Regions from separate parts of the Homo sapiens genome. Here region 1 is linked to region 2. A link means that fine-mapping ties the variant in region 2 to the expression of a gene that starts in the linked region. Tissue or cell type: blood mononuclear cells. Region 2 holds a variant in brackets; the other region holds the start of a gene. All regions are shown on one strand. Distances are between the middles of the regions.

What was found. PIP is the estimated chance that this variant, and not a neighbour inherited with it, causes the effect.
Region 1: LINC03122 starts here. The variant in region 2 is fine-mapped to the expression of LINC03122 in blood mononuclear cells (TOPMed, PIP 0.92).

Annotation. Positions count from the first base shown.
Region 1 is chr5:61,635,320-61,641,034 of GRCh38, forward strand. LINC03122 (long intergenic non-protein coding RNA 3122) reads left to right here and starts at 2,462. Exons shown (of 2, transcript NR_126525.1): 1 at 2,462-2,527.
Region 2 is chr5:61,703,996-61,709,710 of GRCh38, forward strand. The region is part of intron 1 of LINC03122 (long intergenic non-protein coding RNA 3122); the gene reads left to right. Among named protein-coding and RNA genes, the nearest start is that of LINC03152, 8.4 kb to the left of the region's middle. The variant T/A (reference allele first, on the strand shown) is at 2,983.

The sequences.
Region 1 (5,715 bases), 69 kb before region 2:
TCTTACAATTTACTTAATTATAAATTAAAGATGGTTTAAGAGTGTATCTCTCAAGTCACTGTCCTTGTATTTGACAAAATTTCCTGGCCAGGGTTAAAGTCTGGAATTCTAATCCAAATTTTCCTCATTTGGACATGCTGAATCAAACTGGCCACTACAGAGACAAAGAGTATGCTTGTTGACTTTGAAAAACTAAAAACGCTTTGTTCCTAATGACTAGGGAGCAGTGACCTGGGAGACTTGATCTGTTTGGTAACTGTGGGCGAGAAAGACGAAATATATCTCTTTGGGTCAAGACTTAGCATTTGTAAAGTAAGGAAGACCACAGGATGTTATTCAAAGCCTTTGCCAAGGCTTTGGTTGGAAGATTTAATGGAATCCACAGGCAGAGAATAGGGTGAGGGTAGGAGGTGGGGATACAGGTTAGGAAGGTTGGTTTATCCTTTCTGTTCCCAGGGGCATTTCTTCTATCAGGTCATTCCCTCAGCTGCAAGGCCTCCTGTTTGCCTCTAATGCTACTTCCAATCTGTCCATGCTGCAGGGCCCAGGTTATACTATATTGCCTCTATCAAGTCTTCCCGGATCACTTTAGCATGCACCAGTAACTCATTTTCAGAACTCACTCATTTCCTGAACTCTTTACTCATTCATTAAACATGTCATGTTACAGAATATTTCTCTTCTGGTATTTCACTCATTTTGCTCCTAAATTTTATCTTGAGGAAGCAGATCAGAAAAAAAGAAACGACATAGACTTTAAGGGCACATTGACTTCACTTGAATCCTGCTCTAGGGCCCCTGCCTTGCAGAACTCCAGGGGCCAGTTAGATAGCATGCAGTCCTGACTGGTTCTACCACTCTGGAGCAACTGTCTATGACCACCTCAAATCCATTGTGGAATGCAAATGGGGCATACTGTATTAGTTTCTATTGCTGTTCCAACAAATGACTACAAACTCAGTGGCTTAAAATAACACAAATGTATAACTGCTATAGTTTAATATCCCCTCCAAAACTTAGGTTGAAATTTAGTTGCCATTGTAACAATGTTGAAACATGGTCTTACAGGAGGTGATTAGGTCATGAGGGCTCTGCCCTCATGAATGGATCAAGGCTGTTAATCACAGGAGTGTGTTAGTTATCAAAGGAGTGGGCTCCACATAGAAGAATGAAGTTCTGGTTCCCTTCCTCTCTCTCTCTCGCATGCTCTCTTGTCAGGTAATGCCTTCTGCATGTTATGACACAGCAAGAAGGCCCTCACCAGATGCAGCCCCTTGATCTTGCACTTCCCAGCCTCCAGATCCATAAGACAAATAAACTTCTGTTATTTATAAGTTACCTAGCCTGTGGTATTCTGTTACAGCAGCAGAAAATGGACCAAGATATCTTACAGTTTTGGAGGCCAGAAGTTCACAGTGGGTTATCAGGGCAGGGCGTCTTCAGGAGGCTTGGGGTGGAGGGGGAGGAATCTGTTTTCTTGCCTTTTCCAGCTTCTAGAGGGTGCATGCATTCCTTGACTCATGACCCGACATCACTCCAATTTCTGTTTCCATTGTCACATCCCTGTCATTCTCACTCTTATCTTCCTATCTACCCCCTTATTAAAGACCATGGCAATTACACTGGGCCCACTCAGAAAGTCGATAGTAACATCCCCACTGCAAAACCTTTCATCACCTCTTCAAAGCCCCTTTTGCCATTTGAGGTAACCTATTCACAGCCTTCAGAATTTTTGAAGGAGGGGAGGCATCATTCTGCCTGCTATATACATAGTCTTTGGATCTCAGTTTCCACATCTGTAAAATGGAGAACTACTGTCTTCCCCACAGGGCTATTGAGATGATTGAATGAAGTAATTTCTGCTTATGAATTCCCAGCTCTGTGCCTGCCATGGAGGCAGGCAATTCTGATCCATGTTCTCTTCTGAGTGGGTTGTCAGCTGGAGGCCTTCTACTTCTTTCTAATCCATTAGCTTCTTGCTAGTGCTGCGTCCCCAGGAGGAAATCAGTAAATGCAAGAAATAATTACCTTGACAATGCCTTGCACATAGTAAGTACCCTAAAATAATTCATTGAATTGTTTGTTATTTTGGTGTTAATGGATGGGGATCATCTGATTAAATGTTATTATTTATTAGATCTAAAATATAAATTTGGATTCTTCTGTTGCACTTTTACCTAATTACTCTAAACACCAGTGGGAGAGAGGAATTAGTCACAATACAACTTAAAGAAAAAAATATCTTGCTGTCACTGACTTCTCTCCTTGGTCTGAAAACTTTCTGATTTTGTAGGATGCCACTGACTGCTCTTTCTGCAACTGAAAAATCTCTCAAAGGGCCCTGTCCAGTTAGGTCACACAAAGCCAGGCTGATTATTTAGAGAGAACACAATGCTCCCTCACATGGGGCACAGAGAGGAAGGAATTTTTTTTTTAAGCCAATTCCAGTCCCTGGAGCTGCAAACTGCCCTCAGGGCAAAGAAGCCTGCAGAATAATTGGGAGGAGTCTGGCAGGAAGGAAGCCAAGGTAAGTTAAGCTGCATTTCTGTCTATAGCCAGGGTCTCCATGCCACTTTTTAAACATCCCCTTCTGGGATAAACCTGTATGTCAAGATAAACAATTAAATAATATGCAAGGGCCAAATCAGGAAAACTGCAGCTTCAGCCCTAGAAAACAATGCCAAGAAACACCAGCCTGTCTGCCGCTGCTAAGTCGAGGAGATGGGTTCCCATGATTCCGTAAGAGAACTGGGTCAGGGAGGAGACACTGTCTGTTTAGAATATGCTTCAGGCCCCTAAACTTGGTCGGTTTATGCTTTTTCAGGTTAATAAAGTGGAAAATAACTTTACCTCATCCCTCTATCAAAGCATAGTGCGGCTGCCCCAGAGACCCCTAATACAGCCAGGGATGATGTGTTTGGAAAATGGGGCAAGAGAGGGTCCAAAGATGAGACCCCAAAACTGTGAGGGGGAGGTTGTGTGAGGAGGACAGACCAGAGCTGGAGGGGGACTGTGAGAAGAGGAGTCTGGTTGCTGCCGTCTCTGAAGGGTCTTCCTAGGCTCCCACACCATCATGTCTTGGCCAGCCAAGGCCAAGTGGTTGTGTAAACTTAGGATGGTCATAGAATCCTGAACTACTAGCACATGGGGGTTGAGCTTGTCTGAGGATCTTTTTGAGGAAATGGGGGAAGTATTATTCATGTAATGTGTGACCAGAGTATAGAAATCATGATCCCAGCAGATGGCATGAACGGACACTGAATAGTCCGAATGTCTCATCTCTCTGGACAGAGCAGGCTGGTGGGATCTGGGCAGTCGGGCTGGCTGAGGAGGCATATTTCAGAGTCCAGAGCGAATCCCAGCAGTAATGCCTGGGAACAAAGCCAACTGGTGCCCAGGGCAAGCAGCCCAGTTCTGGGGTCAGGCTACCAAGGTTGTACCAGGCAAGAGAAGAAGGGTGAGCAGGGGAATATTCAAGAGCATCCAAGAATGCAGGGAGCTAATGAGCATGGGAGTGCAGAACTGAGGTCAGAAGGCGTGGCCAATGGAAACTCCCAGCAGCCCTGTGCAGGGGCTCTGCGGATACCTGCTAGCTCTTGGGGCTTAAGCACGCAGTTCGGGACTGGCAGCTCAAAAATGTCTTGAGCAGATTGGCCCCTCAGATAAAGTGGGACACACAGTCTTTTTTTTTTTTTTTTTTTTTTTGAGACGGAGTCTCGCTCTGTCGCCCAGCCTGGAGTGCAGTGGCGCGATCTCTGCTCACTGCAAGCTCCGCCTCCCGGGTTCACGCTATTCTCCTGCCTCAGCCTCCCGAGTAGCTGGGACTACAGGCGCCCGCCACCATGCCCGGCTAATTTTTTTGTATTTGTAGTAGAGACAGGGTTTCACCATGTTAGCCAGGATGGTCTTGATCTCCTGACCTCGAGATCAGCCCTCCTCGGCCTCCCAAAGTGCTGGGATTACAGGCTTGAGCCCGGTTGGGACACGCAGTCTTTAAGAAGTACTTAGGAAGGGCAGTCAGGCTAAGCAGTGGGCTGTACTTTGGGACCCTTTTGCCACAGAACAGAGGGCAGCCTCTGAGTCTGGCCGTGTGTCGTAATTCCTGTGTTGGAACAGCCCCACCCTAATGAGGGCATTTAGATATTTACTTCCATCTACACTCTCCTTGGGTAGGGCGGCAGCAGAAATAACTGGCTTTGAGGCCTCCACCTTGCAGGGTCCCCTTTTTCACTACTAACGCTACCTCTCAGGGCATCCCAAATTCATGGGAATCCCATTCTGAGAAGCCCCAGTATAGGTCTGGATGTTGGATAAGAACCAAGGGCGGTGTGATGCTTATACACTGGGACAGAGTAGGCCTGCCTGATTTAGCAAATAAAACCACAAGATGCTCAGTTAAATTTGAATTTCCAAAAAGCAAAGAGTAAATTTTTTAGTACATGTCTATCCCCAACACTGCAGGGACATACTTATATTGCAAATGATTTGTTCTTTGTAATGAAATTCAAGTTTAACTGGGAATCCTGTATTTTGCAGGCCACCGTATTACAGAGGCCCATATGGAACCAGCTGGTCTGAGACAAGCCCAGGTTCTGGGCCAAAGCAAAACAGGCAGGTGTTTGCTCAACCTCTGCTAAAGGTCTATTTTTAAGGCTAGATGCTGAATTAGGAGAAGAAGCTTATGAATTGAATAAAATACTATTTGCCATCAAAACCCCTTTGAATTTTAGCTAGTAATTCACCCATAAAGTGCCACCCACCAGGGAGCCTCATACGGTTTCATAAATACATATGAGAGCTGCTGTGGAGAGAGATGGAGCCCGACGCAGGCACCGGACACAACATCCCACAGCTTCCCCATGGCTTTCAGAAAGCTTGCAGATATTTCTCTCTTCTGTTCTGAACTCTCCACAGAGAAATCTGTCAAGGGAGAAAGCAATGACTTTGCTCTCACTGGGCCAGAAATTCCATGGCTGAAATGACCCAGGGGTAGCAGGCGGGTTTGACAATCTGTCAGTTTCTGGATAGTGTTACTCGTCAGTCACTCATTTTTGCTAAATTGCAGAAACTCTTTTCTTTAAATGAAACTTTATTTGCTCATGATGCAGGTTAAGCCCAGTTTCTGGCATGTGTCCAGGGAATTGGGTGTGCCACCCTGTCCACTTGGTCATGGGGAAACCGTTAAGTCAGCCTTCAGTCTGGACATCTCTGCTCAAGGCTTTAGTTAATTTTTCTTCCCATCTGAGACTTAACCGCTGGGACTGTTTTACATATGAAGATAAGAAAACAACCGAAACTTGATTTTGCTCTATGGAGATAAAAATAAGGTAGCATTTTATTCAAGAAGAATGTGTGTAATAACAGTAATCTGAAAATAATGATATCTATAAGGTCTTTGGCAAAGCCACCCAGGAAAAGAAAAACAATAGATGTGAAAGCTTCAGTGAGTCATAACACCACCTTTCAGCATCAAAATGCCCTGGAATCAGATTCAGATAAACTGGTTTCATCAGCTCTAGACTCAGCTGTATGCGTCCCTTTTTATTCCTTGTGCCGATTGCACATTCTCCAGATAATGGCAAGGTATTGGCTCTCCTTCAAAACACTCAATTGTGCAGCAGAGGAAAGAAAAGGATTCCTTGTAAGCTTTTTCATGTCTAAACACAAAAATAGCTCTCTTCCTGGGCCTGCCCAGTGGGCTTCCTTTCCCTCTGG
Region 2 (5,715 bases):
AATCCACTCCAATTCCCATTTTGGGAGTTGCTATGTGATGAAGGTCTGCCCCTGTGGTGTTGGGACAACTTGCTCATGGAGTTGCAGTTCTTGCCTAACAGGAACCCACCATGGTAAGAAAAAGACTCAAGCTGGTTTATTTGTTTTTAAGGTTGCAAGGTAATCAAGTCCATAACCACACTTGCTCTCACATTTACCAAAATAGGCCAATCTCAGAACTAAATGATAAAAATGAAAATTAATCAGGGACTCCCATGGGCCTCACATATATGGCAGTTTTGAATCTGTTCTTTTTTTCACTATCATAATTGTTTTTTTAAACTCATTTTCTCTGCTTGAATACACAACTGTAAAAAAAAGTGGGGGTAGTGGTGGTGATAGAAATGAATAAACCCATGGAAACAGTGAGACATCTACAGAGACAAAATTAGGAAGGAAGGAAACAAAAGCAATTTCAGTATCTCTGTGCAAGGCCTGCATACCTTTCCTTGCCAATACCCGTGGATTGGGCTTGTCTCAGGAGGTAGCAGGTGTTTCCTTGACTCACACAGAAAACAAGCCCTTGGGCTTCTTGTGCTGTTAGGGCAAGTTACGTTCAGCACATGAACACTGGACCCTGCTTTGCCTGTCCGTCCTTCCCAGAAGAGACACAGATCACAGATGATCAAGTAGTTGAGAAAACAGTTCAAGAGGAGGCTTTGTATCTTTTCTTTCTTTTCTTTCCTTTTTTTTTTTTTTTTGAAACGGAGTCTCGCTCTGTTGCCCAGGCTGGAGTGCAGTGGCATTATCTCGGCTCACTGCAGCCTTTGCCTCCCGGGTTCAAGTGATTCTCCTGCCTCAGCCTCCTGAGTAGCTGGGTTTACAGGTGCCTGCCAGCACGCCCAGCTAATTTTTGTATTTTTAGTAGAGACGGGGTTTCACTGTGTTAGCCAGGATGGTCTCGATCTCCTGACCTCATGATCCACCCGCTTCAGCCTCCCAAAGTGCTGGGATTACAGGCATAAGCCACAGCACCCGGCCCTGTGTCTTTTCTTAATTTGAGCGAACTTAAAGTAAAAACGCTTCTTAACATTATAAAGTAGGACTATGTCCCCTCCATTGAATTTTTGTAAAAAAGTCGAATAGGGATAGAAAGCAAGCAACCAGATAGAATATCATGCCCCAGAACATCATTTACCTTGGTAGAACATTACCACTTTAACACATAGAAACCTTTTCACACTAGTTAACAAATAGCATTAAGCATGATTCAAGTCAAGATTTTAAAAACTTGGCTGATGCCTCTCATTAAGAGTTGAAAACTATATAAGACTCTTGCTCCAGGAAACTGTGTTCTGACATTTTAATAGTATTGCGTTAGCAAGAGCAGAAAATCCATGAACTTAGATTCACAGAAAGTAAATCAAGAATCCATCCAAAATGGAGTGCCTCTTGCTGAGTGATGGGATGGTTTTCATGTGAGATGTCAGTGCAGCTTCTATACTTGACATAAAAGTTCCCATTAAAAAAAACGGAACTGCTGCTCAATTTTTTTTTCATCAAGCAGAGTTACCTAAAGTGCTTTTTAGAAGAGACTATTAGGAAAGGAATGGAAAGTAGTCATTATGACTAATCTGCTTTAGGAGTTGGGGTAACCAGTATTACAGGAGGGACTTTCAGAGCCATGGGGACCTTTTAGGCAACTCAAATTCCTTCAATTGTTTGCAGTGGTCCTCTCGAGGGGATGTAATGAGTTGACATGCACCAGAACAGATAGAATGCACTGCCAGCTGGTAGTTTACTCTTGTACAGGAAGGCTGCTTTTCTAACACACAACTCTTTGTTGTGTTAAAGAGAAATAAATATATAAAAGCCTAAAAGTAAGCTTTCAATTCTTTATGTCTGGCAAAATTGTCAGTACAATGTGCCTTGAGGATATATCCATGGTGCTGTCTTACAAGGTTATTACGAAAGAATAAGCTCATACTATAATAACCACCCCATACACTTTACAGTTTATGAAGAACTTACATATACATTTTCTCAGTTGAACCTCACAACATCAGTGGGAGGCAGGGGAGGCAGATATTATTATCTCTTGAGAGGGAGTGACCCTGCTGCTGCTGCTGTATATGTGTGGCTTTTGGTTTAGGAAGACTAAGTTGATTGTGTTGTATTTTCAAGTATTTTATATCGTACAAGGATGTTTATTGCAGCACTGTTTATAACAAGGAAAAATTGGAACCTACTCGAATGCTTGCTAATAGGGGACTCATTAAACTATGGTACAAGCTTAGATATGACTCTGTAGTCATTAAGAATTTTGATGAGGTATTAGAAAGAAATGTATTGATGTTGAAGTATATTTATTGATGAAGGAAATTGTTCACAATATTTCAGCCAATAAACAATAGTATATGCATTTTTTTGTAATAGGAAAAAATGCACACAGTAAAATAGTGGTTATCTTTGTGTGCGGTGAATATGTATGATACTTGTTTTCTTTTTCATGCTCACCTATCAATTCTAATCTTAGTGTCAATAAATATTAAAAATGTACTATCTGACATTTTCAGCGAGATTAACTTTTACAATGAAAGTTAATGGAAAATATATGGCTCCACCTCTGGGCCTCACGGGTAGAGTGATCTTGGGCATGTAGATGTGTCAGCCATGGTCGTGGCAAGGCCCTGAGTTCAACTAGATGGCACAAATTGAGTGTGGATCAGGTGTGTCTTACAGTGCTGTGCAAAGGGATAAGGAGCAAACAAGGGTGACAAGGCACCAGACACCAGCAACACTGGGAAGCCACGATCACTCCTAGGGCCAAAAGGACAAAAGGAGGAAATAGAGTTACCAAGTTACCAGAGCCCTGGGGACAGGAGTTGTGAATGAACTCCCCTCATTCCATGGGAGCTACAACAGCAAAGCATCACAGGCTTTGTTAGACACCAGTGAAGACAGGAAGAAGTGCCCTGACCTCTTTCCTCCTGTATTTCCTGC[T/A]GGTGCCTTCTGCTGACCAAGCCCTATGGGAAGCCAGCTGGCAGGAGATTCCTAGAGTCAGCCTCCTGGTGCATAGCAAGGGGCAAAGCAGGGCAAAAAATGCGTCTGGCCATTGGGGCTGTGCAGCAAACACAGTGAGCAGAACACAGGTCAGTCCCTGAGAGAAAAGGGTGTTTCTTAGGAAGCTGAAACAGAAAGGAAGAGCCTGTTGGGGCAGGATGGCCTGAGTAATTTGATTTTTTTGCCTGTGCTCAGAGCTTCAAACGTGTGGGAATGGGATCACAGATCACCGAATGCAAACTGAGAACAAAATTTCTTTATGAAATTTTATGCAGAGATAAAATTGTGTACCTTTGGACCCCAATAATATCATCCTTGCTGCTTGAAGAGAAGAGGGGACTGCCAGGGAAAAGAAGACCAAAGTCATCTCAGATGTACCTCACTGCTTCCTGCTGTCCCATCTTTATTCCTATGCTCTCTCTCACTTCAGTGTCTTTGTCACCAGCCCCACATGATAGCTTAACAAGAGGTAGCATGCATCTGGTGAACACTTGCTTAAAGCAAGCAGTGGGGGAGGCACTGTTTGTGGTAGGCACTCAACATGATTAACTCATTTATTTCTCACAACAACCCTATGAAAAAAGTGACATTGTTCCCCAGTCTACTGAGCAGCTAAGAACATTGATAATGGAGCCAGGCTGCTTAGATTTGAATGCTGCCTCTGCCATTTCCCAGCTCTGTGACTCAGTTTTCTCATCTGTAAATGGGGATAATAATAGTGTCTACCTACTGGGATGGTTGTGAGGATTAATTGGAGAAATATGAGTAAAGTGTTCTGAACTGGGCTTCACATAGCAAGCCTAAGTCTCCAGTTCCCACATAAGGAAACTGAGGCATAGAGATGTTAAGGTACTTGCCTCAAATCATAGGGTTGATAAACAGCAGACCTGGACTCTGACCAGGAAGTGGGGTTCCTTCCTTCATGTGGGCTCTGAACCACTATCCAGTATTGCATAAAAGGGCCTTTCCCATTCCCTCCCTGCTACTTTGAGCAGAGAGAATGGGATCACCCTCACTAACTGCCTAAATGAGTCTCTCACATTTTGGAACACGCTCCCCACTGCCCAGATGAAGATCTGCAGAAATCTCATCAATGCTTCAAACCGTATTCCTCCAGGGTCACTTCCCACTCGCTCCAGGCAGAAGGAAGAGTGCAGATCCCCAGCAATGGTCAGCAGCAGATGGGGGCAGGGGTGTAGTGGCTTTTTTGTCTCATCTTCCTTGGGATCAGACAAAACGGAGGCTGGAATTGTGAGGTTTTCAAGGCCCAGGTCAGCAGGTGGGTCTTCAGTTTCCAAAATATACACCATGGAGAGTCATGACTAAAGCACACTCCAGCTCAGCTATCTGCTCTGGGCCAAAATAGGGGATGGGGCAGCCTCCTTCCTTGCATGGAGAATGCCAAGCACATCACCATCATCAGTTAATCCCCTAACCTATGTAGGGTCAGGAGCAGTCACCTGGGTAAAATAATGAGGAAAAACCAACATGAAACATCAAGGTAACTGACAGAACTCAGATGGGAATTGAAGAATTCTTTAAGCCTGGGCCACAGCATGATCTCTCGTGTTCTTTATTTCATTTCTTGAAAACTAGCTTACCTGTATTTCTTTCTTGCCTTCCTCTTAGCCAGGGGCTTTATAACAAGATTTTTTGTCAGTCTCATCTTTCATTTCAGAGTGAAATATGATCAATTACCAATGACAACAGAACACACTGAAAGCTGTGTCACCAGTGAGTCAAAAGTCCTCAATGTAATGTCCATGACTTGTTGAAAACACAACAATCAAGTGGCCATTCAACAAATCTCTTTTCCTTCCACTCTTCTTCTTTCTTTTTTTCTGGCCTCGTATTCAGTGTACATTGAAATAATATGAATGCAACAAGATGTCCTCAATTTCACAGGTGCCTAGTGACCAAAGTCAAAAGAGATTGCCTAGTGTTCATAGAAAACAGAAACTCTTCCAAAAACATCATGCACCAGTGAAAAGTATATAAGTTTGCAAAATGTTGGTTGGTGCTTCATTTTCTCATTTTACTCATCTTCATAAAGTTGCTTTTAGGAAAGGAATCATTTAGTCAATTATAATAGTTCTTCACTGAAACTGAGCTGGGTCACACATACTGCTGAGTGGTGCCCTGGCTGGAGCCTGGCATCTGGCCTGGTGAGAGTAGGAGGCAATACAGAAGAGGCTCTGTAGACAGTTTCCTTATCTGTCAAATGAAAGGGATAGGCTAGCCTTAAATAATATGTAAGGTTTCTTTCAACCAAAAAAACATATGGTTTTCTCCCTAGCTCTGGACCTGAGCTATGTTCTGAGTTTTTAATTAATTCAGAAAATGCTCTTAGCTTTGAACCGAGTGTAGGGGCATCAAGATGTGAGTAGCAGAGATAGGAGAGTAGGTGGATGCTGGGCCTTTGCTGCCCATAGTAGGATTTTCTGGTGATTAGAAAATGTGCCCTCAATCAGGCAAGAGAAAGAAATAAAGGGTATTCGAATAGGAAGAGAGAAAGTCAAATTGTCTCTGTTTGCAAATGACATGATTCTATATCTAGAAAAACCTATTGTCTCAGCCCAAAAGCTTCTTAAGCTGATAAGCAACTCCGGCAAAGTCTCAGGATACAAAATCAATGCACAAAAATCACAAGCATTCCTATACACCAACAACAGA